7 linked regions of the Homo sapiens genome follow. The protein of the gene in region 2 purifies or fractionates together with the protein of the main gene of each other region. This does not show direct contact. Each region holds a gene or a part of one and is shown on either strand. Other genes may lie near its edges.

Region 1 (4,129 bases), on a different chromosome or scaffold from region 2:
TCTGGCAAACCCATGGATTAAAACAGAGCTCTCCAGAGGCAATCTTCCCTGGAATCTGAAGCTTGCCTTTTTAAGAACCAACTTTTTTCTCATTGAAGCCTTTAAAATACATACACATAGGCCGGGCGTAGTGGGTCACTCCTATAATCACACACACACACATACACACACACACACACACACACACACACACACAGCCGGGCGTAGTGGGTCACTCCTATAATCACACACACACACACACACACACACACACACACAGTGCATTAACAACAACAAAAAGATGTCCTGGAAATTCCTAAATACTAAGAAGACATCAACTGTAAGAGACACTAGGGATTTAAAATAACCATCGTTTCTCGGCCTTTTGGCTAAAAACAAGTAGAAAATAACAGTCTCTTGTTACGAGACAGATCTGGGAGGGGAGTGCGTAACTAGTACGAGTAAACATCATTGTAACGTTCCCAAGCCCAGACTCTTCATTTCAAAGTGTTAAAATATACTATTTTACCCTTTAAAATAGAAACAGAAATCATGTTTTCTGTCATTTTGTTTTTTTGAGATGGGGTCTTACTCTGCCATCCAGGCTGGAGTGTGGATGACATGATCACAGCTCACTGCCGCCTCAACCTTCCAAGTTCCAGTGATCCTCCTGCCTCAGCCTGAGTAGCTGCGACTACAGGCCCATGCCACCACACCTGGCAAATTTTTGGTTTTTTGTTTTGTTTTTAGAGACAGGGTCTCCCTAGAGTGCCCAGGCTGGTCTCGAACTGCTGGGCTCAAGTGACCCGCCTGCCTTGGCCACCCAAAGTGCTGAGATTACAGGTGTCAACCAATGTGCCTGGTCATCTTATTTGTTTAAAGCTAGGTTTAGTATGGTATCATGTACCATCAGAACTATTTTATTTTACTTTTTATTTTATTCTTCTCTTCTCTTCTATTATTTCTTCAGATAGAGTTTCGCTCTCGTTGCCCAGGCTGGAGTGCAATGGTGCGGTCTTGGCTCACTGCAACCTCTGCCTCTTGGGTTCAAGTGATTCTCCTGCCTCAGCCTCCCAAGTACAGGCACCCACCATCATGCCCGGCTAATTTTTTTGTATTTTTAATATAGATGGGATTTTGCCATGTTGACCAGGCTGGTCTTGAACTCCTGACCTCAGGTGATCCACCCACTTTGGCATCCCAAAGTGCTGGGATTACAGATGTGAGCCACCGCGCCTGGCCATCTTATTTGTTTAAAGCTAGGCTTCGTATGATATCATATAGCACTAGAACTATTATTTTAATGTTCTAAAATATAAAGCATTCTAGGAAGATGGGGTGTTGATCTTTTCTCCATTGCAGCCCTTATGAACCAAGTGACTGATCCTCACTACTCCGACAGACACAGCCAGATTGTGACAAACTCCCTAAAAATTCTGAAGGGAAGTCAAGGTCTGTAATCATTCAGGGTTAGCCCACCCAGACTTACGCTATGGGATTAGAGTGTGTAAGACGGGCTAATGGTTATGGGACACCTCTGGGGTGCTGTCACTTTTTCAGAAAAGTCTATAAGGATGCAAATGGGTGAGAGGGACACTTCTCTAAATTCAGCAAATAATTAGCAAACTTCTGCCTCTTTTGGATTGATGCTATTATCTGTGATCCACAAGATGTCAATCTCCCACCCCCATCTCCTTTTTTTGTTTTTCCAGAGACAGGGTCTCACTCTGTCACCCAGGCTGGAGTGCAGTGGTGTAATCATAGCTCAATGCAACTTTGAACTCCTGGGCTGAAACGATCCTCCAGCCTCAGCCTCTCGAGAAGCTAGGACTACAGGCACACACCACCATGATGGGCTACTTTTTTTTTTTTTTTTTTTTTTTAAGAGAGATGGGGGTCTTGCTATGTTGCCCAGGCTGGCCTGGAATCTAATGGATCCTCCTGCCTCAGCCTCCCAAAGTACTGGGATTACAGGCGTGAGCCATGACATCTGGCCCACAAGATGACAATCTCATATGGTTTAGCTTAGTATTAGTAAATTGCTTCTGACACACATCACCCAGGGGTGCATGATCACCCCCAGACGGGAACAGCGGTATGAAGATACTCAATAGCAGAGTCGGTCGCTGGCAGTCTTGCATCACTAGGATGACAGTTAACGGGAAGCACTTGCAGGGCTTTCTGACTCCAGAAGAGCTGTGTCCCTGCACTTAAATGCCGCGGGCACTGCATGTCTACAGTGCCGCTGTCTGCTCTTAATGATTCATCTGTCCTCCGCGCTCATCAAGCCTCTCCATCCTTTCTGCAAGGCCGGGGTTTGGCTTTATACCCAGCTCAAGGTGCGAGGAAAAGATCGAGGCAAAGAGACAAGGTGCTAAGGCGGCCTCCTCCACCCGCTCCTGCAGGCCCACCATGCCCACCTGTTGGCCACGATGCTGGGGTAATAGGCCTTCTGGTTCTCGTCCACCTTCAGGTCACTCTGGTGGATGAAGCGCTCCTGCTCCTCGAAGGCTCGAATGACGCTGACCCCCAGCAAGGTCTCGTTGAAATGGGAATAGACCGGGGAGCGGCTGACCGACTCGAGGCGCTTCAGCTGCCGGGAGGAAGCCACGTAGAACCTCTGGGGTAGAGAACAGACGCGGGGAGTTGATGAAGGTTCCCTCCTGCCATCCTCCCAGGGCAGGGCTGTGCTGGAGAACATCTAGACGTAACCGATACCTCCAGGAGGCAAAATGTTAGAGCCGGGCTGCCCTCACAGGGGTGCCCACTCACCTGGTGAACCACAGGAATAGCACCACCAATGACAAGGACAGTGACAATAATAGCTCACGCTTATACAAAGCCCACAGCCCCAGGCATCGTTCTAAGCAGTTTTACAAACATCAGTTCATTCAATCCTCACAAAAAACCTGAGGTGCTCATTCCTATATGTGATGGGTAGACTAAGGCACAAAGAAGCTAGTTAATCTCCTCCCCAAGGTCACATGGCTAGCAAGGGGCAGAACTGGGATTCAAACCCAGGCCATCTGGGCTGCAAAGTGCTAACCTCTACCCTGTACTGCCTCTCTGAAGCCTTTCACCTCTAGGGTTTTCTGGAACCAGCAGTGTGGTTTTCAGCATAGGCTTTGAGGTCAACGAGACCTCAGTTCAAATCCTGACTCAACTACTGACTGGCAATATAAACACGACTAACACTTTACTTCTCTAAGCCTCAGTTTCCTTATCTGTAAAATGGGAACAACAAGGCTTGCTCGGCCAGGTGGGGTGGCTCATGCTTGTAATACCCGCACTTCAGGAGGCAGAGGCGGGAGATCACTTGAGGCCAGGAGTCTGAGACCAGCCCAGGCACATGGCAAAATGCCATCTCTACAAAAATAAAATATTATTAAGAAAACAAACGAAACAAAACAAAGCTTGCTTCACGGGGTCATTGTGAGGGTGACATGTAAGAGTTACAGTCTTACATGTGATGTGTATTTGCGTGGACACATTATTTCATAAATCATATAGATATGCATGATGTCACTAAGCACAGTGCCTGGTAATACTAGGTTGAACCACAGGAAATAGCTGTTTCTGTAGATAAGAAATAAGTATTAGCAGTTTCATATAGTTTGACCTAACAGTAAGCATTCAGTTAGCTGGTGACTATTGTTATCATTAAGTGACAGAATTCCGCCTGTTGATCACATCCCCTCAGGAGTGACTGTGTCCATGCAATGGCCGGTTCCAGCACACTCAGCCCAGCTGAGATGCCCATGAGGATAGGGTCAATCTCGTCACCCCCCTCCGATGGCCTCCCAGCGCTGTTAGAGTTGCCAACCATGCTTCTTCCCTCAACTCATCTCATCCTGTAACTCTCCCCTTCCTTCCCTGCACACAGGCCGCCTGCCTCCACCCACCATGCCCATCCCGTCCAGGCCATTCCTCATCACCCAGCAGATGGGAGCACAGATGTCACTTCCTCGGGAAGCCCTTCCCATCCTCCATGAGCACCTTCTCCGGGCTTCAGTGTCCCAGCTCCCGGGCTACGATGATACGTTTCACAAGCAGCTCCACCCACCCTCGCGGGCAGATGCTTCATCTGCTCTGCCTCCCCCAACCTGGGCATTCAGCCAGTGCCAGGCACCAAGAGCCTCCCGATAAGTCT
Region 2 (4,697 bases):
CCAATGGGATCTAACTAAATTAAAGAGCTTCTGCACAGCAAAAGAAACTACCATCAGAGTGAACAGACAACCTACAGAATGGGAGAAAATTTTTACAATCTACCCATCTGACAAACGGCTAATATCCAGAATCTACAAAGAACTTACATAAATTTACAAGAAAAAATCAACCAACCCCATCAAAAAATGGGCAAAGGATATGAACAGACACTTCTCAAAAGAAAACATTTATGCAGGCAACAGACACATGAAAAAATGCTCATCATCACTGGCCATCAGAGAAATGCAAATCTAAACCACAATGAGATACCATCTCACACCAGTTAGAATGACAGTCATTAAAAAGTCAGGAAAAAACAGGTGCTGGAGAGGATGTGGAGAAATAGGAACACTTTTACACTGTTGGTGGGACTCTAAACTAGTTCAACCATTGTGGAAGACAGTGTGGCGATTCCTCGAGGGACTAGAACTAGAATTTGACCCAGCCATCTCATTACTGGGTATATACCCAAAGGATTATAAATCACGCTGCTATAAAGACACATGCACACATATGTTTATTGTGGCACTATTCACAATAGCAAAGACTCGTGAACCATCCCAAATGTCTATCAATGATAGACTGGATTAAGAATATATGGCACATATGCACCATGGAATAGTATGCAGCCATAAAAAAGGATGAGTTCATGTCCTTTGTAGGGACATGGATGAAGCTGGAAACCATCATTCTGAGCAAACTATTGCAAGGACAGAAAACCAAACACCGCATGTTCTCACTCATAGGTTGGAATTGAACAATGAGAATATTTGGACACAGGGAGGGGAACACCACACACCGGGGCCTGTCGTGGGGTGGGGGGAGGGGGGAGGGATAGCATTAGGAGATATACCTAATGTAAATGACAAGTTAACGGGTGCAGCACACCAACATGGCACATGTATACATATGTAACAAACCTGTACATTGTGAACTTAAAGTATAATAATAATAAAAAAAGGTAAAAAAAAAAAAGTAGACACATACTATAATCACCTTGAAAAAAAAAGAAAGTCTTTCAAAGAGATAAAAAATTCCATATACTCCACTTCCTACAATTCTGGCAGTTTCCAAATACTTTTACTTATGTGAAAATGCTATCATATCCAAGAGTGCCTTTAGAGCTAAGCTAACAGTAGGCTACTGATCTTTAGCACATTGCTTTTTCTGTTGTGTTATTCAGGGGGCTTTCTCACATTTATGTTTCCATTTTTCACATTTCACAACTTTCTTTGGAGCACAGATATTTCAGGAAGATTTTAGAGCCTTTGAATAGCATTATGGACTTTTTTGCATTAATTTTTACTTTTACAAAATTGTGCTAAATATTATTTCTGTTAATTAGTGAGTTTTGTTGGGGGCCCCTTAAATTGGAACCCCAGGCTATGCCTCATTTGCTTCACTCTGGTCCTGGCCCTGAGAGAGGAACACAAAAGGGATGGTTAGAAAAACAAGAACAAATGAGCCTCCCAGAATTTTCTCAAACAACAGGCCAGTTAATTAAGGAAAGTAGATATTACATAGCTAGGTATAATGAACATGCAGTCAGTGGATTGTCTCAGTAATTTATGGAGATAACCACCAACAAAAAGTGTATGTGGGTGGGGACAAAAGAGAGACAACAAAGTACTGCAGGCAGAAAGCTTCCTTTTGCTGATTTTGCCTCACAGAATTGAGAGTTTGTTCTTACACACAAGTTTAATGCCACCTTCCTCTGTCTGCCATGGACCAACAAGCAATATATGCTGAGTTAAACTTACCCACAGACTCAGGCCCAGAAAGTTCTTCACCTTCATCTCTTCCTCGGGGTAAGTGGCTTTAATTTTCCTTTCGGCATTTGTATGTCTTCCAGAATTAGATCTTCCTGTTACATTTATGGCTTTAAATCATTGCTTTAAAGATGAGCAGTAGTTTTATATTAATGTTTAACGGGTGTTGCATGGCTTGCCTGTAGATAATCACAACTTTGGGAAAAAAAATTTAAACCTCATACATTTATTTTTTTCAATCAAGTTAGCATGAAAAGCAAACATCACTTGTCTTACTGAGCCTTGGTTAAAAGACTCTGAACACTTTAGGCTACCCTGGGCACACTGCCTATTGGTTACCCCTGCTCTACAGGGATGGAAAGAAGGAAGAAAGAAAGAAAGAAAGAAAAGAAAGAAAGAAAGAAAGAAAGAAAGAAAGAAAGAAAGAAAGAAAGAAAGGAAGAAAGAAAGAAAGAAAGGAAAGAAAGAGAAAGAAAAGAAGAAAGAAAGAAAGGAGAGAAAGAAAAAGAAAGAGAGAGAAAGGAAAGGAAAGAAAGAAAAAGAGAAGGAGGAAGGAAGGAAGGATGGAAGGAAGGAAGGAAAAATATTTTACATGTATGAACTAAGGAATATTTAAGACACATTGCAAACTTGCTGTAATAACAACCTACGTTATTCCAAATTCCTCTACAAAATATCAATACTATGATTAAGTCCCAGTGCATTTTCATCCATAATATTCCTTTCAGAATACAACGTGTAGGCCAGTTGCAGTGGCTCATGCCTGTAATCCCAACACTTTGGTAGGCTAAGGTGATTTGCTTGAGTCCAGGAGTTTAAGGCCAGCCTGGGCAATGTGGCAAAACCTCATCTCTACAAACAATACAAAAAAATAGCCAAGTGTGGGGCACGTGCCTGTGGTCCTAGCTACTCGGGAGGCTGAGGTGAGAGGATTGCTTGAGCCCAAGAGATCAAGGCTGCAGTGAGCTGTAATTGTGCCACTGTACTCCAGCCTGGGTGACACAGCAAGACTATCTCAAAAAAAAAAAAAAAATATATATATATATATATATATATATACTTTTTATACATATATTTTATATATTTTATATATATATATATACTTTTTATACATATATTTTATATATTTTATATATATATATATAAAGTGTAGGCTTAATGAGTAACATACTTCACTCTCTCAAGAGAGGGGAACACTTTCTGGAAAAAAAATCATATTCAAGATCAAAGATTTGAATATCATTACTACCTGATAGTTTCTAGTTTGAAAAGTATCACAGCTTAGAAAGAGACAAGCCACAAAAATACTCGAGCATATCAGTAACGAACCTACTTACCATTTGTTGAAACTGGCACTTTCCTGTGTCTCTGAAGAGTTAGCATTCTGAGTGAAAGAAGCGGGGAACACCAATGTGAGGTAACACATGATGGATAGCATGGCCTGTGGATGGATGGGAAGAAACTAGAAACTGAGGCAGAAAATCAGCATGAAATTATTATGACACATTATTATTTTCTGATATCTAACTGAATTTACTATCATTGATAATATTACAATTGTTTACCAATCTGATATTCATTCCATGTCATGCCAAGCATTTGACTTGTGCTGTTTTAAGACTGTTTAAGTTTTAAACTATTGAATTCTCAAAGTTTTAAGTCAAGAAGAAAGTCTTAGAGCCGTCAATTAAGTTTCAGTATAATTTTCACATAAGAGTAGAGGAAATCAGAGGGTTCTAATAACTATAGGGAGGATTTGGTTGAGTAACATTTTTTTTTAAAGAAAAGAGTAAGTCTTTCTTTTCCTCTATTCATATCTAGCAAAAGGTGGAAAGTGGGCTTTTGTCAGAAAATGAATATAGAGGTAGTGAGACTCTTCCCAAATGTTGCTATGATCCCAAACCAATGGATGCAGAAATTTTTTCTACTTGGATTGTAATAATTATCCTATAAAATGTCATTCTGAGAGTAAACCTGAAGAAAAAATAAGAGTAGAATAAAGCCAGAGCAAAATATGTGACTATAGAACACTGGTCTGATATTGAATGACAGTAAAACCACTATTGGTCTCTGGCTAAACTGCTGAGGCTGTGGTCACTCTGTAGCAAGCACGGTGATTGTGTCTAAGGCAGTCAACAAAACCAGAAGGAGAGATGTGAGTGATAACCGATCTTGCTTATGGCCAAATGGCCAAGGGTTTGGTCTGTTAGAAAAGTGGATAAGGTGTTTGCAAAAATGCCCCTAGAGTTTATTCATTCATTAAAAAATAAGCTCCTACTCTGCACCAGGCATGCTGTGAATACAGCAGTGAACAAAATAGAGAAAATTATTTTCCTTCATAGAGTTTATAGTAAAATAGAGGCACACTTGTGGAAGACAGTATGGCGATTCCTTAAGGATCTAGAGCTAGAAATACCATTTGACCCAGTGATCCCACTACTGGGTATATACTCAAAGGATAATAAATCATGCTGCTATAAAGACACATGCACACGTATGTTTATTGCGGCAGCATTCACAATAGCAAAGACTTGGAACCAACCCAAATGTCCATCATTGATAGACTGGATTGAGAAAATGTGGCACATATACACCATGGAATACTGTGCAGCCATAAAAAAGGATGATTTCATGTCCTTTGTAGGGACATGGATGAGGCTGGAAACCATCATTCTGAGCAAACTATCACAAGGACAGAAAGCCAAACACCGCATATTCTCACTCATAGTGGGAATTGAACAATGAGAACACATGGACACAGGGCAGGGAACATCACACACCAGGGCCTGTTGTGGGGTGGGGGTAGGGAGAAGGGATAGCACTAGGAGAAATACCTAATGTAAATGACGAGTTAACGGGTGCAACAAACCAACATGGCACATGTATAC
Region 3 (4,129 bases), on a different chromosome or scaffold from region 2:
TGGTGTCTGCTTGGCTGTCCTGCCCTCCATTGGTGCCCAAAGAGGAAACACAGGACCAGAGAGAATGGCAGAGGGGATGGGGCCTGTGGGACAGGGAGAACTAGAAGGCCATGGCTCAGATGTGAAGAGCACAGGTGACCAAACCTCTGGGAAGCCCCCTTCCCCCACCAGCTGTTGGCCTCAGGGCCGAGCGCGGGCAGCCCGGAGAGCCGCCAGGAGGCACTCCTGTCACTGCCTTGCCAGGCGCGGTTTGCTGTGATTCCGAGGGGTCCCTGAGCTCAGCCCGGAAGGGTCCCCGCCCGCAGGCGGTTCCCTCTGCTCTAACAGATCTCCCTGCTGTGCGTGCCCCTCGCGCCTCAGGTCCCGTTTTGTCCCCCCGGGTGTGGGGAGTAGGCAGACGGAACACTGGCCTTGCTGGGCCTCTCCGTGCAGGGGTCTCAGGGAGGGAGGATGCGTATCTTGCAGAAACCAACCCACCCCCACCTCTGTCCCAACCCCAGTACATCCTGTTTGGGCATGTATTTAACACAAAGAACCCAGGGCCTGAAACTGGATTTCTGTGACCTGAGAGTTTGTTTATACTGACTTTTGATGAGTCTCTTAAAATAGATCTTCATCCTCTTGCATCATCTGTCGTTTTAGAAAACGATTTATTTACTGAGGTGAGTCGGCGGCATGGTGCATGTTAGTGAGACTCTCCGGGCCCGGCCAGCACTGGGGGCAGGGGAGGGGATAAGGAGGCTTAAAGCCACAGGCTAGGGGATCAGATTGAGCCTGTGACGCGTCCACCAGACTGTACGCCAGCCGTCGGGGAGCCTGCCCTCACCACCAGGCAGGAGGTGCCCTGGGATGGCTGTTGTGGGGCCTGGACACGGTGGGTTTTGCTACATGAACAGCATTGGCTGTTTGCTTGGTGTTTCCAAATCTTTTTACTGACCTGAGTGCTTGTTCTCAGACATCCTTATAGTATTTTGTCAAAAAACAATAATTTGAAAATAACTTTAGCCTCATTACTCTCATGATGTGGGATTTTTGCCTCTTTTTGTCAGGCCCTGTAAGAAATGCACTGTGTTAAGTCACTATAGCACCATCCAGTGCCCTCCGTTAAGTCACTATAACACCACACGGTCCCCTCTGTTAAGTCACTATAGCACCATACGGTGCCCTCTGTTAAGTCACTATAGCACACACAGTGCTCTCCGTTAAGTCACTATAGCACCACACGGTCCCCTCCGTTAAGTCACTATAGCACCATCCAGTGCCCTCCGTTAAGTCACTATAGCACCATACGGTCCCCTCCGTTAAGTTACTATAACACACACGGTGCCCTCCGTTAAGTCACTATAACACACACAGTGCCCTCTGTTAAGTCACTGTAGCACCGCGCAATGCACTCAAAGTCACATTTTGTTTCTTTTTCTATTTGTCATTCATGTTGTTTCAAATCTATGAATACAACTCTAGCCTCAACAATGTCTGTTTTTTTTTTTAACTTAGAAGAATTTGTCCTTGAAAAGGCCTTCTTCAAGAATCTTTTCACTTTTCCCTGAAATCTGGTTCAGGTACATAGAGCCCCTTCCATTTCCTGATATTTATTCAACCTTTGATCACAGGCGGCATCCTGGAAGCCACAGGGCTTCTCGAGAGCATCAGAGAGACTTTGGCCTGTGGGGAAACGGACTTTGGTGGCCTCTGACTTCTGGCTACTTTTGGGGCTGGGGCTGCATTTTCTGCCTGGAGCCTCTCAAGAGTAGCCAGCGGCACCGTTTGCCTCTCCAGGGTAGGGGAGCTGCTCAGGCCCCGTTACCGCCCTGGGCTGTGAGGAGAGCCTCCTTTGTAAGCAGGGACGGTCGAGGGTGTACTTCTTAAAACGAAAACAGCCTGGATTTGTCAGCTTATCGCTTTGGGTCATTAGCAAGATCACTTGAAACTGAATTTTCTTAAAGCAGTGAGGATAACCAAGGTTACCCAAAGCAAGACAGCTCTCCCTTTCCTCTGCAGGACTTGGTGCCAAGGGGAAGCGGGACCTCTTGAGCTCAGTTTGGCCAGGGAGCTGAGGAGGAGCAGAATTTGAGAAAGAAAAGTGTAGATTTGATTGTTCGTTTTCCTGTCCTCTCTTTTGTGCCCACAGGGTTTTTAAGTTCCAGTAGCCCCAAACCCCTCATCTACAGAGACTTTAGTCTCCAGGACACCCAGAGAGTGTGGGGCATGGACCCCCAGGCCCCGCTGTGTCCTGGTCCTGAATCCTGCCCGGTTTGTGTCTCCCCTGCAGGCGGGTCGTTAACCAAGCTGGCCTACTATTCAACGGTACAGCACAAAGTCGCCAAGGTGCGGTCTTTCGACCACTCCGGAAAGGTGAGCCTGCACTGTGGCCACCCGGGGCAGGGCAGCCGCTTCTCTGTCGTCTTGGACCTGGCACTTGTCTCGCAGTCATCCCTCTGCTGCTGCAGACCTCGACTTTAGTGTCCTGGGAGTTTCTAGCAGGGACAGCCTCCCCTGCCTTCCGCCGTGTCCCTTCAAGACCCTTTGTAGGAACCTGCGCCCGCCTGTGCTCCCCCGGGAGAGGCTTCCGCTCCTGCTGGGTGGCCCTGAGGTCGCCACGGTCCTAGGCTCCTCCCTCTTGCCCAGGATTCTGCCTCAGAGCGCCGCCTGGTTGAAGGCTGGCGCGAACAGCCAGCTCCACTAGGGCAGGGTGCGCACAGCCCAGCCCGGCGCGGTGTCCCACACACATGCGGCCTCCCCTACTCTGTTTTCCAGGACACAGAACGTGAACATGAGCCGCCCTATGAGATTTCAGTTCAAGAAGAGATCACTGCTCGACTGCACTTCATTAAGTTTGAGAATACCTACATCGAAGCCTGCCTGGACTTCATCAAAGACCATCTCGTCAACACAGAGACCAAGGTCATCCAGGCGACCGGGGGCGGGGCCTACAAGTTCAAAGACCTCATCGAAGAGAAGCTGCGGCTGAAGTGAGTGGGGATCTCAAGGGCGAGAAAGGAACATGTGTCTGCCCCCGAGTCCCTGGGTGTCCCAGAGCCGCGTCCCTGGCGCTCGTGTGTCAGATTGCGCATGGGGCATGGCTGCCCCTTCGGACCAGGCAGGCTTGCATGGTTGCACCTGTCTGTGGCCCAGACTCTTTAAGGGGTTGGCGCTTCCTTTTCAGAGTCGACAAGGAGGACGTGATGACGTGCCTGATTAAGGGGTGCAACTTCGTGCTCAAGAACATCCCCCATGAGGCCTTCGTGTACCAGAAGGATTCCGACCCTGAGTTCCGGTTCCAGACCAACCACCCCCACATTTTCCCCTATCTTCTTGTCAATATCGGCTCTGGAGTCTCCATCGTGAAGGTAAGACCCGGCTTCATGAATGAATGAGTGGATGGTTTAGCCATAGTTTGTTAAGCCCTCGCTGTGTGCAGGAGCCAGGGCTGGGCACATGGATGGGGCCCAGTGGGCGGGAGGGGGGTGGCGAGGCTGTGAGCTCAGAGCCTCTGTGGGAGGGGCATCAGCGCCCCCAGGCTTGGCCATGAGAGTCCTCCCACTGGCGGTTGGGGTGGGGGCGGGGTTCACCCCAGCGCAGCACATGGGGCGGGGGGCGGGGGAGCCTGTGTGGCTGAGGGCCCACTGAGGGCACACCTGCCCTGGCTCTGTTGCAGGTGGAGACGGAGGACAGGTTCGAGTGGGTCGGCGGCAGCTCCATTGGAGGCGGCACCTTCTGGGGGCTTGGCGCTCTGCTCACCAAAACGAAGGTATGCGGCAGCTGCCAGAGACCTTCCAGGGGTCTGCGGAGATGTCTGCTTCCTTCCCCCGAAGGCCTGCAGCTGGGCGGTGCAAAAGCTGCTTCCGGGCCTCCCTCCTGACTCGCGTCAGTGGGTCTCTGGCCTCTGCGGCTTCACTCTTTGCGCCCTGAGGGTTGGGTGTCCCAGCAACCCAGAGCTTCTATCCTGGCTGGGTGGCCCGAGGGTCCCGCTTGCCGCCTCCTGCCTTTGGTCCCACGCGATGAGGGCCCATTTACCCCCTGCCCGCGCGTGCCTCCTGCCATGGGCTTGGTTTCTGGGGTCGTGGGGATTCCAGCAGCTCCTGGCGCCTCACCCGCCCCCTCGCCGTGTCCTGCAGAAGTTTGACGA
Region 4 (4,129 bases), on a different chromosome or scaffold from region 2:
AACATCATTAAGATCAATATCTTAAAAGGTATAAAGGTTAACCCATTTCCACAGAATCTTTTAACAGGGTAGGTTTGGGAATTATAGTGCCAATAACTCTCTCCAGAGTAGTTTCCAAGGACAACAGAGTTTTTCCTGCATTTGCATCTGGAATTCTTCCTACGAAGGCTAATTCCAACTTCTACCTGTTTTTTTTTCTTTTTTCTTTTAATAACAAGACTAACTGTACCAGTGACTGATAACATCCTGAATAAAGATTGCAATACCCACATTCTAAGGTACCCAAAAGCCCTAATATAAACTTCAGCACACACCTGAGGATAGGCTATACTCTACGTTTGTAAGAGATGTCAAGAAATAGACTATGTTAGGATGTTGCTTACCTGACTTCATATCTTCAAAGACTAAAAATACAACATGCAGACTATGCGTACGCCAACCATCTTATCTAAACATCTGACAAAGATGCCACAATTAATGCTTTACCGAAGTTCAATGATAATAACTGATTGTGCACAAGGTCATCCACTCACTCAAAAGACTGTGTGCCAAGTGCTATTCTGGGCACCGAAATATAGGAGGGAATAAGACCAAGTTCCTGTTCTAATAGAACTGACACTCACCTTCTAGTATGGAATAATGTAAAGTACTGACAAATGCTGTGAAGAGAAATAAAGAAGGGTAAGAGGAGAGTGATGGAAGGGGGGGCACCATTTGGGTGGGGAGGGTCAAGGAATAAGCATGACATAAATGTAGTAAGCTAGCAAGCTGTGTACATTAACTATGGGTACAGAAGGGGCAAACCACCTGATTATTTGGGCGCTGAATGTTCCAGACAGAGATATCAGCAAATGCAAAGGCCCTAAGGCAAAAACTTGAAATGTTTAAGGAACAGTAAGGCCAGTGACTAAAAATAAGAATTCTACCATACCTAGTATGTATTAATTCTATAGGAGAACACCCAAGTCAAACACCGAAAGAATGGGAGGAGGCTGGGCGCGGTGGCTCACACCTGTAATCCCAGCACTTTGGGAGGCCGAGGCAGGACAATCATGAGGTCAGGAGATCGAGACCATCCTGGGTAATACGGTGAAACCCTGTCTCTACTAAAAATACCAAAAAAATTAGCCCGGATGTGGTGGCAAGCATCTGTAGTCCCAGCTACTCTGGAGGCTGACTCAGGAGAATCACTTGAACCTGGGAGACAGAGGTTGCAGTCAGTGGAGACTGGGCCACCTCACTCCAGCCTGGGCAACAGAGTAAGACTCCATCTCAGAAAAAAAAAAAAATTGGGAGCAAAGATCTGAATACATATATGGGAAGGCTAAAAACTTTATAAAGACCTTAGCCTAAAAGGTTTAATGTTATCTTGATCACAATTCCAGTGGAAAATCTTGGGGAGGAAAAACAGAAAGTAAAACCCTACAGCTTCCAACAATAATCAATACACTGGAAAGTTAGTAGCTTAAGACCAGTGAAACAAGGGAAAGCTCAGACCCATGTGTAAAGTAAAGGTACCATTTCAAATTAGCAGAGATGAGCACTCATTGAAAACCACTCTAAAATTTAACTCTTATCTATAGTTTAATAGAGAATGTTAACAGATAGTGAAATAGCCAAAACAAAAACAATAGCATACAGAAATCAAGAACTGTTAAGCATCCTTGAATAACTAACTCAACGGTGGTCAAACTCTGAGGGCAGTCAACAAGATTAGGAAACTAAGGTGTGTATTTTTATTCTAAAGACTAGTCTTAAGAAAATGCAGGTCAGGTGTGGTGGTGGCTCATGTCTGTCTGTAATCCTAGCACTTTGGGAGGATGAGGCAGGGGATGGCTTGAGCCCAGAAGTTCAAGACCAACTTAAGCAACAGAGCAAGACTCCACCTCTATAAAATATAAAAAGTTAGCCAGATGTGGTGGCACACACCCATAGTCCCAGCTACTCTGGAGGCTGAGGCAGGAGGATCACTTGAGCCTGGGAGGTCAAGGCTGCAGTGAGCTACAATTAAGTCACCGTACTCCAGCCTGGGTGACAGGCGAGACTTCGCTTAAGAAAAAAAAAAAGCCAGGTGCAGTGGCTCAAGCCTGTAATCCCAGCACTTTGGGAGGCCAAGACGGACAGAGCACCTGAGGTCAGGAGTTCAAGACCAGCTTGACCAACGTGGTGAAACCCCGTCTCTACCAAAAATACAAAAATACTAGCCGGGTGTGGTGGCGCCTGTAATCCCAGCTACTCAGGAGGCTGAGGCAGGAGAATTGCTTGAGCCCGAGAGGCGGAGGTTGCAGTAAGCCCAGATCGTGCCACTGCATTCCAGCCTGGGCAACAGAGTGAGACTCCGTCTCAAAAAAAAAAAAAAAAGGCTCCAAAAAACCCAACCCAAGACTCCCACCCCCAAAAATTTCCTGGGTTTTAAAGACATTATGTGGGGACTTCTCAATAGATTTTCAAAGATATTTCGTAATATGATTATCCATAAATCAAATTGTAATTGACTAGTCTGAAGTAGCAGCCTGTGTATTTATTATCCTGTATAGCATAGCCCAATTAAGTATTCCCTGAGGTAAACAAATCTGAGGTATTCTCTACGCAAAGTTGTTGGGGATGGGGTAGGGTATGAATGACACTACTATACCAATAGTTTATTGTGAAATACAGGTTCATGGTTAAAAAAAAATCAAAAGTTCCAGAGAGTCTAGGAAGAAGGTAAAACAAGAAAGGTCTCATCATTGTAGAGATCCACCTAACACACAAGTAAAACTTCACCTGGAAATAATGTGAATGCCTCATCGTCTAGTCATGTGGGACAGGAAAGGTCTTCACAAAACCCCCCATCTTCACCAGAATAGTTCACTTTTACATATTGGATATTCTGGTTTTGTCTAAAGAAAAGGGAAGACATCCTAAATATATTTCTAACTAATGAGAATGCCAAAAGCCCTATTTTCTTTGACTAGAATTTAAAAATACTCAACAGGAGCACTGAAGCATATTCCTTCTGTGCGATGCCAGTCCTAAATAGAAGTACCTCACCTCCATTCTGTCTGTTCCCACCTATCCCCAACATGCTTGGAACAAACATTCAGAGAATAGAAAATGTTTAAAAGCAATTTTTTGAAATTAAAAAAAAAGGTCATGTTAATCTTAATTTTCAAGATAGACATTTAAGAGTTGGAATATATCTTAATGGTCAAATATTCAGATTTTAGCAGTTAAGATACCAAAAGCTTACCAGTCTAAGGATATTTTCTTGAAATTTAACTCCTAAAAGGAAGCAGAAATATTCATACTCAACTGAAAACTCCTGTTACTGAGGGATTGGCCTGCAAGAGTGTGTGTGTGCACGTGCACAGAGTGGGGGAAGATCCTCAAAGTCAATATTGTTTTAAACACTATGCCAATCATTCTTCATCATTTGATCATGCCCATTCCCATACCCATATAGGAAATATACAATTAAGAAATCAGTTACCGTATCTAACTTCAGCCCTCAATAACACCGTGGGGGTATGCATTCCTCAAATGAGAGGTTCTGGGCACCTGAGAATCCCTCTTTGCACCTCAGAGCACCACCATTCCCCTTCCGGGGAATAAGTGTTTTGTGGAGGTGAAACACACAAACCCTCTCCAAAAACAAAATGATCTGCTACTCAATAATCAACACAGGGCCAGCATAAACCTTTACCAAGCAGGAATTCACAACAGGAGATCCTACTAATGCTTCTGACTCTCTGCTAAGTAGCAAGATATACAGTTCTAATGAAAACTCTAAAAAAAACAAAAAAATCTGGTCCATGACTACTGGTGAGCCTCTAATTTAAGCATCCCAGTATCATACACTACAGTTGTAGGGAGTGGGAAGGTAGATGCTTATCGTACCTGTCTGCTGAATAAAACAGTACCAAACTTAGGAGTCCATAAATATCAATGAACTGTTTACTCTCATATTATACCAGGCTAAAGATATTTCAAGTTTTCAAAGTGTTAAACTGCTATATTCTGCCAGATTCTGGCTATGGAAAACAGTGATTAGTGAATCACTTTACTAGTCATAGAATTTCTACAGAGAAGAGACAAATCTTTCCCTAGAGAAGCTTACAACTAGACCAGACAAGTGGGTCTGAATACA
Region 5 (4,129 bases), on a different chromosome or scaffold from region 2:
GCACTCCAGCCTGGGCAACAGAGTGAGACCCTGTCTCAGGGAAAAAAAGAGAGAGAAAAGAAAGCCTAGAATAATCCTGACAGATGATAAAAAGATATTTAGCAAAATCTAATACCTGTTCCTGATAAAAGTTCTCATTAAAACAAATAGATGCTTCTGGAACATGATAAAAATATCGCCAACCAAATCAAGCACCGCGCTCAACAGTGAAGCCCTGGAGACCAGAGGTGCATGTTCCTTCCGGCTAACAGTGGACCCCTGATGACAACGGACTCTATTCTGAGCAGCCATCCCTGACAACTCCTGGCCCTGACAGGCCCTCAATCCAGGTCTCAAGGAAGAGGACTGTGGCCTGAGCTGGGGCGGCGGCCAGAGGAAGCCAGGAAGGCAGCTCACACTCTGGGTCATGAGTAACACAGGCAGCAGCACCCGGGCCAGGGACCCAGGTACTCACGCTGACACGCAGGTGCTCCAGGAAGTAGCGCAGCAGGAGGGCGCTCAGGCCCAGGGCCCGCGCCCGCTCGTGACCTCTTGGGGACTTGATCCATGGGCTCAGGTGCTGAGGAAGAGGGGCGTCACACAGGTACTGCTCAGAGGGCAGCCCTGGGGGCAGGAGCCTTGTGCATCGTGGGCCAGCTCAGTGTCCCTGCCAGGCCATCCTTCCTGGGCTACAGGGGGCCAAGCCGGGGACCCAGAGTGGTGCCAGCCTTAGGCCACCGTAGCTCCTCTGGCCCTGCCACTCTGTCCTCCAGTCTGGTCACAGACACAACCCAGCCCAGGTGGATCCAGGGCCAGCCAGGACTGTGGAGGGACAGGGTGGAGGCCACCTTGGTCCTAGAAGAACACACTCCGAGCATGGGGGTCGGCCCCACCCTAGCACCACCCTGGTAGCGGCCCCCAGTCAGGAGCCATGGGTACCCGTGGGCCCCTCCATCCCCGCGCCATGCAGTGGCGGGAGAGGACAGGCTCCAGAGGTCCCACCTGGGTCAGGGCCTCCCCAACTGCTTGCCAGCCCAGATGGGAGGGGGTGCACCTGCCTGTTCATAAACCACCCCCAAGTGCAGAGAGCACCAAACTGTCCCTGTGGTGCCCACATGTGGAGAGAGGGCCAGCAGCCAGGTGGAGTGCCCTCTGTGCCCCCATCCCCATCCCCATGACAGTTCCCCCCTGCACACCTCAATCATGATCTGCAGGCCTTGGGGGGTCATGTTCCGCTGCAGGAGGCTCGTCAGCAGATCCTCAAGGGCGTGCAGTGTCTCCAGATACAGGGACTGGAAGGAGAGCCAGGCCGTCCAGCCCCACCAGTGACCCCGCAGCCTACAGTGGCCTCCCACCACTCTCACGGATGTGGACACAGGCAAGGGAAACACAGGGATACCTTCTGGCAGCCTCCGTCCTCCTCCTTGGGCTCAGGCAGCAGGGCCATGATGCTGTGCAGGCAGCCATGGATCACATCCGCCCGGGCCTGCTCGTCCAGCGCTGGCTCCACGGAGCTGAGAGGCAAGTTAAGGGCCCCAGACAATGATCCTAAGGCTGAAACTCAGACACCCAGTAACCTCCAGGCCTGTGTGGGCAGCACAGCCACTGCCATGTTTACTCTGCTCCAGACCATGGCGGCACCCCATGCAGCATGCGCACACACAAGGCGTGCACACACGCAAGCACAGGCACACACACGCACATGCACACGCGCATACACGTGCACACACAATGCACACACATGCACGCACACACGCAGCTGCACGGGCCTGTGCAGAGGCAGGAAAGGATACACCAAGTAAGTGCAGGTGAGCATGGCTTTCTTCCGAATAGGTGTCCTCAAGGAGTCCGGGGGCTCTGCCCTGATGAACTCCTGGGTGAGGCAGGTGCATGACTCAGCCCTTGGAGGAAACGCCAGCTCTCCTCCCTGGTCAAGCTCTGTCCCCCAGCCTAAGTGACAGGCGGGGCCCGAGGAGCAGAGCCCCATGTGTCCCTACATGGCCCCTCCCATGTTCCCAGGCTGTCTTCACATTATCACCCTCAGTGCCCCAGTCCCCACCTCTGGCCTCAGTCTCCCAGGAACCTGCCTGAGGACCTGCCAGGCCACGGCCACGCTCACCATCATCTGTGCCACCAGCTCTGCTTTCCGGGTGAAGTGGAAGGAGCCAGCCTGGGTGCTGCTGCAGATGGCGCGGCTGACCATGCACACACTCTGGACAAGGCACAGCTTCAGGGCTGGGTCCTGCAGGGACGCAGGGCTACAGGAGACGCCCACGCCCGCCCTCCAGGGCTGAACCCGCGCATACCCCCTTTTCTTTCCTCTGAAACCAGAAGTGCTGCACTCTGCTCTCAAAGGAGCTCTCTAGCCAGCCCTTTTGCTTATCAAAGTCCATGTGGAAGAAGCGGGGGGCCACCCAGGGGTTCCCCCATGTCACACTCCAGAGAAGACAGGCCACAGAGCAGACACTGTGTGGTGTGACCAGAGGGCCCCCCACAGCAGGAGAAGAGTCCTCCGGGGAGTGCTGAAGGGCTGGGAGAAGAACCTCTCAGAACAGCCCCGCCCTCCCAGCCACCGCAGGAGAACCAGAGGGCCTATTCTTCAAGGAGGGGCTGACTGTCCTGAGAGAGGGGCTTGTCAGGTTAGTGCCAGGGAGGCCAGAAGGGAAACTTGTTAGTGAGGCTGGGGTGAGGCCTTGGGGGCCAGTGGAGCCTCCACTGCCACTTCCACTGGCTTTGGGCCTTGGCCCCTCTCCTAGGTGCTCACTGGGGTCCGGGGAGGTACAGCCCCCATGAGCACTGGGGAGCAGAGCCAGAGGAGGTTCCAGCTGTCCTGGGACGGGTGGGGCTGGCTGAACTCCCTGGGGGGCGACAGCCCACGACCCGGCCCCTCGGAGGCGCAGACGCCTCCCTTCTTCCCACTGCCGTCCAGGGCCCAGGCCAGGGAAGGAGCCCTGGTGATGCTCTCGAACGCCTCCTGGGGACGGAGACCAGGAAGCCCCAGCAAGCTCCAAGCTCCCCCTCCGGCCTCTGCCTATGAAGCTCAACCCGCCCAGAGGAGAGCCGAGAGGAGAGAAGCCAGTCCAGCACTTAATTCCTACACACTGTACCTTGGTTTCTACCTTTATTCCTAGAACCTGAACAACAAAAAGTGAAATGAGTTAAGACGTGACTCCCCGGCAGCCCCAGCTCCCCTGCGTGGCAGGCCCACCGCAGTGCCCACCTTGGTGCTGAAGTGCTGGCAGATGTTCCGGAGGATGTCTGACTCTACCTTGGCCAGCACCAGCTCCCGGGGGGCCCGGGCCGCCACGTGCCCATAGCACAGGATCAGAGCACTCTTCACCTTCTCCACTTCGTTCTCACTTCGATCCTGAGAGGCCAGAGGAACCAGCGGGACTTCAGTTACACAATTACACTCCCCGACGGGAATCCTCGGCTCAGAAACTCCTGAAATCCTCCCAGAAGAAGGGCCAGAGCCAGTCAGTGACAGCAGAGGTGTGACCCAGCCGTGCACGGCACCACCTGAATCTGGGGATGGGGAGAGCCTCTTTGCAAGGGGCAGGAGCACAGGCAGCCAGCCAGGCATGGGCCCACTGGGTACCGAGTAACAGAGGGCCAAGGGCCGAGGTAGCAGAGGGCCGAGGGTCAAGGCAGCACAGCCACGTGAGAGAGTCAGGCAGGAGGCAGCTGAGAAGAGCTCAAGGCCCCACCCTTGCTCGCTGCAGATCAGCCTCCATCCGCACAGCAAGGGCTGGGAAGCCCTGCATGCTTGGTCCAGCCCTGAGATGCTGTAACTGGGACAGTTACGGGAGACAGGAAATAGAGGGACCACAGCCGGGTTGGGGGCCTGCAGCAGGGGCCCACTCCTTCCTTAAACCAGGCTTAGGCTCCGCCAGCACAGCTGGTGGTTTGGCAAGAACGCAGAATCTGCCAGCCACCAGGGGGCAGAGGCCTGCCCCAGCCGCGAACCCCTCTCATCACCCACACCTGGCAGAGACGTGGCCCTGGCCACAGCTACGTTTGCCTCCGGGAGGCCATTCTGCCGCCCTCCCCACTGGGAGCACCCACGCACAGGTCCTGCCCATGGAAGGAATGCAGGAGCAAAAATTGGTCCAGGGACGCAACCAGCTTCCTGCCCCACTCCAGCCCGCAG
Region 6 (4,772 bases), on a different chromosome or scaffold from region 2:
CTGATGTCTCTCAGCTTCTTGATAGGAGACTTAAACAACTAGGGTTAAATTAGTGACTAAATATCTGGAGAAATTATGAAATGAGAAAAGAGAATTACTAACACCAGGGCAAACAAGAAATTGGGCAGGAAAGGAAAAGCATTCATAGTCTACGCACTGGGTCAGTTGTAAGTGGTATTTACAGTGTCATAGGTCAACACTGGCTGCTGATCTAACCCAAATCACCTGAAGACTATACAGATGCCCCTTGACTTAACAATGAGGTTACATCCTGATAAACCCATCCTAAGTGGAAAGTATCCGAAGTCAAAAATGCATTTAATACCCCTAGCCTACCAAACATCATAGCTAAGCCTAGCCTATCTTAAACGTGCTCAGAACACTTAGGTTAGCCTACAGCTGGCAGAATCACCCAGCAGCACAGCATGCTGGAGAGGATGGGTGGTTTGCGCTGGTGATGGCATGGGTGGCTGAGAGCTGACCAGCATCATGAAAAAATATCTACCGAATATCATTAGCCTGGGAAAAGACCAAAATTCAAAATTCGAAGTATGATTTCTACTGAATGCATACTGCTTTTACAACATCTGTAAAGCTGAAAATTCCTAAGTTGAACCATCAGAAGTGTTTGGACCTATATTGGGAGACAGGAAGAGGGTATGTATAATTGGAGGCAGGGAAGAGGGCATCCCAGCTAAAGCCTCATCTTTCAGAGTAGAAAGGCAATGGATAATGTCTATGACTGGGTGGGTGAGGGAACACCAATAAACAGCATTATAAACACGTTGTTTAGAGCTCAAAGAGATGAAGACACTGGGAGAAACTTATATTTCTGCCTGTAGGACCGAATCTTTAAAATATGTGCATAAGGTGGGGCACAGTGGTTCATGCCTACAATCCCAGCACCTTAGGAGGCCAAGGCAGGAGGATTGCTTGAGCCTAGGAGTTTCAGAGCAGCCTGGGCAACACAGAGAGACCCCGTCCCTAGAAAAAAATTAAAAATTATCCAAGTGTGTTGGTGCATGCCTGTGGTCTCAGCTACTTGGGAGGCTGAGATGGGAAGATCGCTTGAGCCCAAGAGGTCAAGGCGGCAGTGAACCATGATGGTGCCACCGCACCTCAGCCTGGGAGACAGAGCAAAACCCTGTCTCAAAACAAAACAAAACAAACAAAAAAGGTGCATAATTAGCTCTGTCAAAAATAAAAACTATAGTAGTAATAAGGGTGATTTTGCTTACATGTTTTCCCATCTTTTTCAAAACGCTTAATGAAATCTAAAAGGATACATGCTAACATGTCAACAGTGATTATTTCTAGTAATGGGATTGTGGGCCACTTACATTTCTTTCACTTTTGTATTTCCTGAAAAAGCGCAGTACACAGAGCATATCGATAATAAATCAGAAAAAAACCCAAAGGCGTTATACTTCATGCCTGGCCCAAATCCACCCCAAGGTAGAAGGCCCATCTCTGTCATTTTAGCTTTTGTTTGCGCTGCTGAAGCAGAGGAGCCTGCCAACTCCTTCATTTGCACAGCAAATATTTGTTGAACTCCTAAAAGCTAGGCCCTGCAAGGCGATTCCAATACCTTCAGCTTTTGAGTCTCCTGAAGTCCTCAATACTCGCTGAGGGAACCAGCTGGGAGAGGAGCTAAGCCAACACTTCTCATACCTTATGTGCATTATGACCACCAGGGGCTTCATAGAGCAGGTCCGGGTGGTATCTGAGACTGGGGGAGCAAGCAAGCTACTTGAGGTACACAAGATTTACTTCAGGTTTCTCAAAGGAACCGCCCAGGTCTTCAGTCACTTCTGCACCATGATGGTGTGCCCATTCTCTAACTCCCACATAGGCTCATTTTCAATTCCCAAATATTTAACAAAAGTCTGTGAGAGATGACAGAGGGGCACTGCTGGGGCAGCTGGAAGCTGTCTCAACTGCTTGCAGTTATGAGCACGGCCCTGCAGAAAGGCAGGCCTGGGTTTGAATCCATGCTTCACCATCCACCGGTGTGATTTACGTCCCCTCTCTAGGCCTTCACAGGGGAGGGTGGTCGTTGGATTACACGAGGGTATGAGGACATCTAAAGGGCTTGACAAGATCCTGGTACACGAAGAAGACTCAAACAGTGACCACCTCTAACTGCTGACAGGACTCCAGTCCTTTCTCAGCTATGAAGGACTGGCTGGGACTTCTGGGAAGATCACGTGAGTTTTCAGCCTCTATGCCCTCCAATGAAGAGAAGAACGCCCATGCCCTGCCTCCTTCCCAGGAATGTTCTGAGCCTAAACCAGGATGTGCACAGCACCATGCAAAAGACCTCTTTGGTCCTAAAATAGGTTATGGCACTCAGATTTTATTCAGTAAAATTTTCCTGACTCACCTCAATGTTACTACCAGGGAGATAATTAGGAAAAGAAAGAAGCCCTTTCCTCTTCCCCTGATCTTAGGAAGCTTTATTTTCAGGGAGGAGGCCATCCACGTGGAGATCAGGTGAGAAAGGCACCAGGTGTCTCTGACACTCAACACAAACTCAATAGCCACTAAGCCAAGCTTCCTGCTCCCAGGATCTGCCGCCGCCACCGAGAGGACCCAACAAGCTGAATTTCTCCCACAGCAAGACATCCTGAGGATCACAACCCTTTCTTCCCAGGACAGCCCGAGTTTCCTGGACCTTGTTTAGAGTCTTTCACTTTGGGAAGAAGGCGAGGCTGAGCAAAAACGGTTCCCTAAAGCCCGCGGGAAGATCTGAGCAGGCTCCATCCCGAGAAGCACGGCGGAAGCACGCGCCGGGGTCCAGCTGAGCCCCCCGCCACCCCCGGCCCGTCGGCACTCACGATCTCGGCCACGATGAGGAAGCCGGGCAGGGTGCGGAGGAACTCCCGGTCGTAGGCGAAGCTGCTGCTGCTGGTGGAGAAGTTCTCTGCGAAGGAGCTGGCGGTGGTGGTGACTGTGTGCGAGCGGGCGCGCTGCGGCTCCTCCATCGTCGAGCCACTGCCGGGCTGGCGCGTCCCCAGGGACCCCGGCGGGTCTGGGGCTGGACGCGCGGCCCTGCGCCCTGGGGACACAGGCGCGGGGGAGGGGAGCGCGGCCCGCGCGGGGCAGGAGGTGCGAGGGGGGCGCCCGCCGGGGGCTGTCCAGGCGCGGCGGGTGTCCCTCTAGTGCGCGGTGCCCCTAGCGCCTCGGTGCGCGGGCTCCCGAGCTGCGCTGGGGCCCTAGAGGAAGAGGAGAGCGAGCGAGGGGAGGCTGCCGGGCAGCCGGGGAAGGCGGTGGAGGCCCGGAGGAGGGGAGGGGGCGGGGAGAGGGGCGGGCGGGAGGCGGGCAGGAGAGGGACCGCCCCGCGGAGGCGCCGCGGACGCCCGCCCTCTTCACCTGTTGCCCGACTCCCAGCGGCGGAGAAGGCGCCGCGTCGCACCCAGGGTGGCTGGGTTGGCAGCCTGGCGGGCGGCGCGGAGGAGAGGGCGCAGGGGTCCTTCTGGCCGTCTTCCGCTCCCCCTCCCGGCCTTTACTTCTGTCAGGCCCCGCCTGGCCCAGGCCCGCAGCCTGTTTCCTTCCACCTGGGCGGGTCGGGGGCTGCGGGCATTGGGGCCCCTTAAGGAAACCCAGGCCTCCAGGGACTCCGCCGCTCCAGGACTCGGCGCGGAGGGAATGACTGAGCGACGACCGAGGCAGGGGGTGATGTGGTACCTCGAATGCTGTGGAAATGGCAGGAATGATGACCCGGCCGGACCTTAGACCCGAGATCGATGAGAGGCCGCCAGCACTGCCCGGGAGACGGCCCGCTCTTCTCCCCCTCCTGCTGCGGCCGCCGCCAGAGCCCGGTGTTATTTCCTGCCCCTCCTGTCGGGAACAATTTGAGGAACCAACTTAATCGCTTGGCTTTGAGGGCGCGACGCTTCCAGGCGCTCTCCGCGGCTCTGTCCCGCGGACCGGTGGAGCCTGGGTGACGGCGCCTGGGCCGGAGGAGGGGAGATGTTTGGGGTCCCTGGCCAGGATGAATCAGCGTAACCGTCCCGTCACCCTCGGGGAAAAAAAATGTTTCAAGAAGGCTTGAAGGGTGTGATTTGTGTAATGTTAACTTTAGGACAAATGAGCTGTGCTTTCCTGGCATGGGAAGGGGATGGGGGTCCTCATTTAGTGAGGCAGTTTGTAACAGGGTCAGGGAAGAACTGAGCTCGGCTGCGTGCGTTTATCGGCTGTATGACCCAGAGCGAGTGGCTCTAGTTTTTGGACCTCAGTAATGCCATCTCTAAAATGCAGGCTTTGACAGATGGACCTCTGAACAAAAAGATTATCTTCCGCTTGGTCCCTCCTTCTATTTTGTGAAAGGGTAGCAAGAAACATTTTATCTGGAAGCCACCAAAAGAAAAGGAAATAATCTTTGGCTATAAATCGAGGGTATCTTTGATTCACAGTGAAGGCATTTCTGCTGATCTGTTCCAAGACAGGTTAAAAACGAGATCAGAAGGGACATTTTCTTCACAGTGTCTTATCAAGTGTGCTGAGAAGAAAGCAAAAACGACAATCTAATAAAATAAAACAAGGAATTAGTGTCTTTTAAGTCTAGGGCCTAGCCAGGAAGACCTCCAGGAGTAAAAGTTAAGGCTTCAAAAGCATGGCAAAGATGTAGATTTGGAGAGATTCCATCCATGTGCATTTGGTAAGCACCTTGGGCTGGTGGGTAAATTCTTAAAATTTAAAATATAGCACTTCTCCCTGGAGCAGTAGTTCTCAAAGTGGTCCTTGGACCAACAGCAGGTAAGTTCCCTGGG
Region 7 (3,752 bases), on a different chromosome or scaffold from region 2:
TCAGCCTCCCAAAGTGCTGGGATTACACGCATGAGCCACCAGGCCTGGAAGGAATAGAATTTATTTTAAGTAAAATGGAAATGGGTGAAGATGATAAAATTCAAAAAATGGACACCACGTCCTTGGGACATGACTGCAATGGGTCACTAGAGCACAGGCATGTGCCTGGAGTAGGTGCCACCAAAGTGGAATGTGCTTCCCGGGTGCACAGTTCTAGTGTTTGAATCGCTCCTAGAAGGTGCTTGAAATTCACCAGCATGTCTTGACAAAATGGCTGATTCCAGGGCTGGGGCTAGGAAAGTGCGACATGAGCCGGGAACGTCTTACGGTGCCAGGAAATAAGGAAGTACTTAAAGAGTGATGGAACATGTCAAAAGGACACAGGAGGCAGCTTCAGAGGCTTCCTTTGGCCAAATCTGAAACAATTTGAGCATCAAAATAAAAATTGTGGACAGCAAACACAGAGGGAAGGTCCTGCCAGAGTCACCACTTGCTGAGTGATTAGGCCTCCGAGAAAGCAAGGCGGCTGGGGGACATGCGAACACGACGAGTTCGGCTGTGCCTGCCTTCTCCTCACTGCCCAGGTGTGTTCTGCGGCCAAGCGTCCGAGTGCTCTTATCTTCAGTGCCTATCATGCACATACGTAACCCACAAATACTGACTGAATTAGAATTAGGGTTATTAGGGTTATGACTTAGGGAAATCTTTCAATGTCCTTGGCTTCTATTTCCTCATTTGTCAGATGAAACTGAAATACAAGCAATGCCTTATAAATTTGTTGTAATGGGGCCATGCATGGTGGCTCATGCCTGTAATCCCAGCACTTTGGGAGGCTGAGGCGGGAGGATTGCCTGAGCTCAGGAGTGCAAAACCAGCCTAGCCAACATGGCAAAACCCTGACTCTACAAAAAATACAAAAATTAGCCAGGAATGGTGGCCCATGCCCGTAGTCCCAACTCCTCTGGAGACTGAGGTGGGAGGATTGCTTGAGCCTGGAAGGTGGAGGTTGCAGCGAGCCAAGATCGTGCCACCGCACTTCAGCCTGGGCTAGAGAGTGAGACTCCATCTCAAAAAAAAAAAAAAAGGAAAAAGAAAAAAAGAAAGAAAGTTGTGATGGATAGCTAGTCACAACTGGAAAGCCTCCCAGGTAGCCAGGGGACCTGAGTGATTAGGCACTGCCTGGTGCCGATGCCCAGATAACACCAGAAGGGAACTCACAGTTGCTTTCCTGGGTTGAGAGAGCCGAGGTCCAGCTCCCTGTCGAACTCAGTGCGAATGTCCTCCAGGGCCCCGTCGTCCCCGAAGGCCCCCCACTCTGTGTTGATGCACATCCTGCCCTCGTCGCCCTCCACCAGGTCAATGTTGCTCATGTCCTCCATGTAACACGCATTGGTGCCAGTTCCTGAACCAGGGATCAGAGAGAATATGCAGAGAGAGGACTCCCAGCTGGGCACAGACAGAGAACTCTTGACTGCTGGGGAGTCCTCCTCAATGTACCACAAAGTGCTTTTCATTCCCTGGGGGCTGGCTCTCGCTGAGGGAAGCAGCTTGGGCAAGCCCCAAGCACATGGGGAAAACAGCTGACATGTCAAGTCTGCACTTCTCAGGGTGCTCAGGGTTTGCTGTTCTGAATGGAGTCAATTGTGAAGAAGTCCGCTGATGAATATGGATGAAAGCTGACGAAGCGCTCTTACAAGAGGACAAATGAAGATAATCTTGTAAATATTTTTTTCAAAAAATCACCAACCCAGGGTAATTTTGAAAATTCTTTCCTTAAGCTACTTAGCTTCCTCTCTATTTGATACTAAAAATATTCTTTACTTATGGCCTGCCACAAATTGTTTCTAGCATAAGCTGCATCCTTATCTTAGACTGTGATTAGCTACCACCTAAGAAAGCAACATTCCGTTATGCAAACACAAAATCGCTCCAAGGAAATGCCTCAAACACTTGAGCACTGGGGAATGACTGCAAGTGGGCACCATCTTTTTGGACTCTTTTGGGAGGACAGAAATGTTCTAAAATCGGATTGTGGTGATGGTTACAAAACTATACGTTTACTACAAATCATTGAATCGTATACCTAAAATCGGAGGACTTTTATGCCTCAATAAAGCTGTTTGAATTTTCGGGTTTTTTTTTTTTTTTTTTTTTCTTCAGTATCTTCCCTTGGCTGATACTCTGGTATGAGTATTTTAAATGCCAACATGGAAAATGAGAAATGTAGAAAAGCAGAATGTAATATTTGGAAAAAGCTTTTCTCAGAAATGCACGGACACTGTTTAGGCGTGGCCCCCCCAATCTGTGGTTACCAGACGCAGCCACAGTGACAGGCGGGTGCCATGACTGGCAAGGGCCTGAACCATTCTGAGGCTCCTGGAAACAGAAGGGTGGAGGGAGCCCCTCAGGTTTAAAAACCTGCCCTTTGGGAAAGCCAGGCTGAGGAGGGTCTTGAGGGACATTAAGAAAAAGCAATTCAGAAGAACTTTCCCCAGGAGTGGTAAAGGAATGGGAAAAGGAGAAGGGGATATTCAAGAACAACCTATAAGTCAGAGCCATTCAGCTTTACTGTACCCCAAACTGCCTTCCCACACATTCCTCCAGCTGACCCCCTCGCTCTGGTGTGGAGACCACCCACTGGAAACCCCCACTGCACCACGACCTCTCTGGTCCACAGCTGCAGTGCACCTTGCCTGACAGTCCAGTGGTCTCTTGGATGGTCACCCTGCTTCCACTCTTGTCCCCAGTAATCTATTATCCACACAGCAGCCAAAATGGGCTTTTAAAAAATGCACATCCGGCCGGGCGTGGTGGCTCATGGCTGTAATCCCAGCACTTTGGGAGACCAAGGCGGGTGAATCACTTGAGGTCAGGAGCTTGAGAGCAGCCTGGCAAACACTGTGAAACCCCATCTGTACTAAAAATACAAAAAATTGGCCAGCCGTGGTGGTGGGCACCTGTAATCCCAGCTACTCAGGAGGCTGAGGCAGGAGAATTGCTTGAGCCTGGGAGGCAGAGGTTGCAGTAAGCCAAGACTGTGCCACTGCACTCCAGCCTGGACGACAGAGCAAGACTCCGTCTCAAATAAAAAAATAAAATAAAATGCGCATCCATTTATCCATCCCCCACCCAGAGTCCCCCAGTGCCTTCCAGTCTCCCTCAGGGGATAAGCCGGTGACCTTACAGTGACTGTGTGCACATCCTGTGCAATCTGCCCAGTCTGTCCTCTGCCTCTCACTTGAATGGCCTCCGACTCTCAGCCTTCACTCACCTCATCCGGACACCACTCGGCTATAGGGTTCCCCCAGTGCCCCCTCCCTGGACCCCTTCCCATCTCCAAGCCTGTAGGTGTCCTCTTTCCTTTGGCAGGGACTCCCTACCCTCGGGCCTCCACCTTGCTCCCTGGTTTGCATCACTGAGGTCCCGGCTCAAATGCCACCCCTCAGAGAGGCTTCCCTGACGCCTCATCCCACTCACAGTCACATCACTCTCTTTGTTTTTTGTTTTTTGTTTTTTTATCACGCTAACCACCACCTGAAATTATCTTAATAGCCTAGGCCTTCTGGGCCTCTCACCCACCTCCCCACTGAAAGTTCCAGGAGCACAGGAACTCCCCACTCCAAACCCAGTGCCAAGCCCAGGGGCCGGCACACAATGGGTGCTCAGTAAACACTTGTCGAATGGATGAATGAATGAATTTTTCATGTCCCTATGTTGCTTCTCCTAAATAGTGCAGTGCCCTTCCCGCCGAA

Evidence for each region.
Region 1: the proteins of KLRB1 (region 2) and ABCC1 purify together in Homo sapiens (affinity purification with mass spectrometry; one large-scale study listed by BioGRID and IntAct). This does not show direct contact.
Region 3: the proteins of KLRB1 (region 2) and PANK4 purify together in Homo sapiens (affinity purification with mass spectrometry; one large-scale study listed by BioGRID and IntAct). This does not show direct contact.
Region 4: the proteins of KLRB1 (region 2) and SLC20A1 purify together in Homo sapiens (affinity purification with mass spectrometry; one large-scale study listed by BioGRID and IntAct). This does not show direct contact.
Region 5: the proteins of KLRB1 (region 2) and MROH1 purify together in Homo sapiens (affinity purification with mass spectrometry; one large-scale study listed by BioGRID and IntAct). This does not show direct contact.
Region 6: the proteins of KLRB1 (region 2) and CMTM8 purify together in Homo sapiens (affinity purification with mass spectrometry; one large-scale study listed by BioGRID and IntAct). This does not show direct contact.
Region 7: the proteins of KLRB1 (region 2) and HKDC1 purify together in Homo sapiens (affinity purification with mass spectrometry; one large-scale study listed by BioGRID and IntAct). This does not show direct contact.

What each region holds. Positions count from the first base shown.
Region 1 is NC_000016.10:16,120,445-16,124,573, reverse strand, and holds part of ABCC1 (multidrug resistance-associated protein 1), read right to left. Parts: intron 2,600-4,129; coding exon 2,400-2,599; intron 1-2,399.
Region 2 is NC_000012.12:9,604,906-9,609,602, reverse strand, and holds the start of KLRB1 (killer cell lectin-like receptor subfamily B member 1), read left to right. Parts: upstream 1-1,686; 5' UTR 1,687-1,763; coding exon 1,764-1,848; intron 1,849-4,697.
Region 3 is NC_000001.11:2,519,944-2,524,072, reverse strand, and holds part of PANK4 (4'-phosphopantetheine phosphatase), read left to right. Parts: intron 1-2,272; coding exon 2,273-2,355; intron 2,356-2,757; coding exon 2,758-2,972; intron 2,973-3,166; coding exon 3,167-3,350; intron 3,351-3,658; coding exon 3,659-3,751; intron 3,752-4,118; coding exon 4,119-4,129. UniProt on the Homo sapiens protein: Phosphatase which shows a preference for 4'-phosphopantetheine and its oxidatively damaged forms (sulfonate or S-sulfonate), providing strong indirect evidence that the phosphatase activity pre-empts damage in the coenzyme A (CoA) pathway.
Region 4 is NC_000002.12:112,648,567-112,652,695, reverse strand, and holds part of SLC20A1 (sodium-dependent phosphate transporter 1), read right to left. Parts: intron 1-4,129. UniProt on the Homo sapiens protein: Sodium-phosphate symporter which preferentially transports the monovalent form of phosphate with a stoichiometry of two sodium ions per phosphate ion. May play a role in extracellular matrix and cartilage calcification as well as in vascular calcification.
Region 5 is NC_000008.11:144,241,586-144,245,714, reverse strand, and holds part of MROH1 (maestro heat-like repeat-containing protein family member 1), read right to left. Parts: intron 3,347-4,129; coding exon 3,200-3,346; intron 3,114-3,199; coding exon 3,087-3,113; intron 2,222-3,086; coding exon 2,099-2,221; intron 1,853-2,098; coding exon 1,773-1,852; intron 1,494-1,772; coding exon 1,379-1,493; intron 1,272-1,378; coding exon 1,176-1,271; intron 560-1,175; coding exon 455-559; intron 1-454. UniProt on the Homo sapiens protein: Lysosome fission factor. Recruited to lysosomes by RAB7 (RAB7A or RAB7B) at scission sites and homooligomerizes to mediate the constriction and scission of lysosomal tubules. May sever membranes by inserting amphipathic helices into one bilayer leaflet.
Region 6 is NC_000003.12:32,237,185-32,241,956, reverse strand, and holds the start of CMTM8 (CKLF-like MARVEL transmembrane domain-containing protein 8), read right to left. Parts: upstream 3,278-4,772; 5' UTR 2,985-3,277; coding exon 2,838-2,984; intron 1-2,837.
Region 7 is NC_000010.11:69,240,832-69,244,583, reverse strand, and holds part of HKDC1 (hexokinase HKDC1), read right to left. Parts: intron 1,403-3,752; coding exon 1,219-1,402; intron 1-1,218. UniProt on the Homo sapiens protein: Catalyzes the phosphorylation of hexose to hexose 6-phosphate, although at very low level compared to other hexokinases. Has low glucose phosphorylating activity compared to other hexokinases. Involved in glucose homeostasis and hepatic lipid accumulation.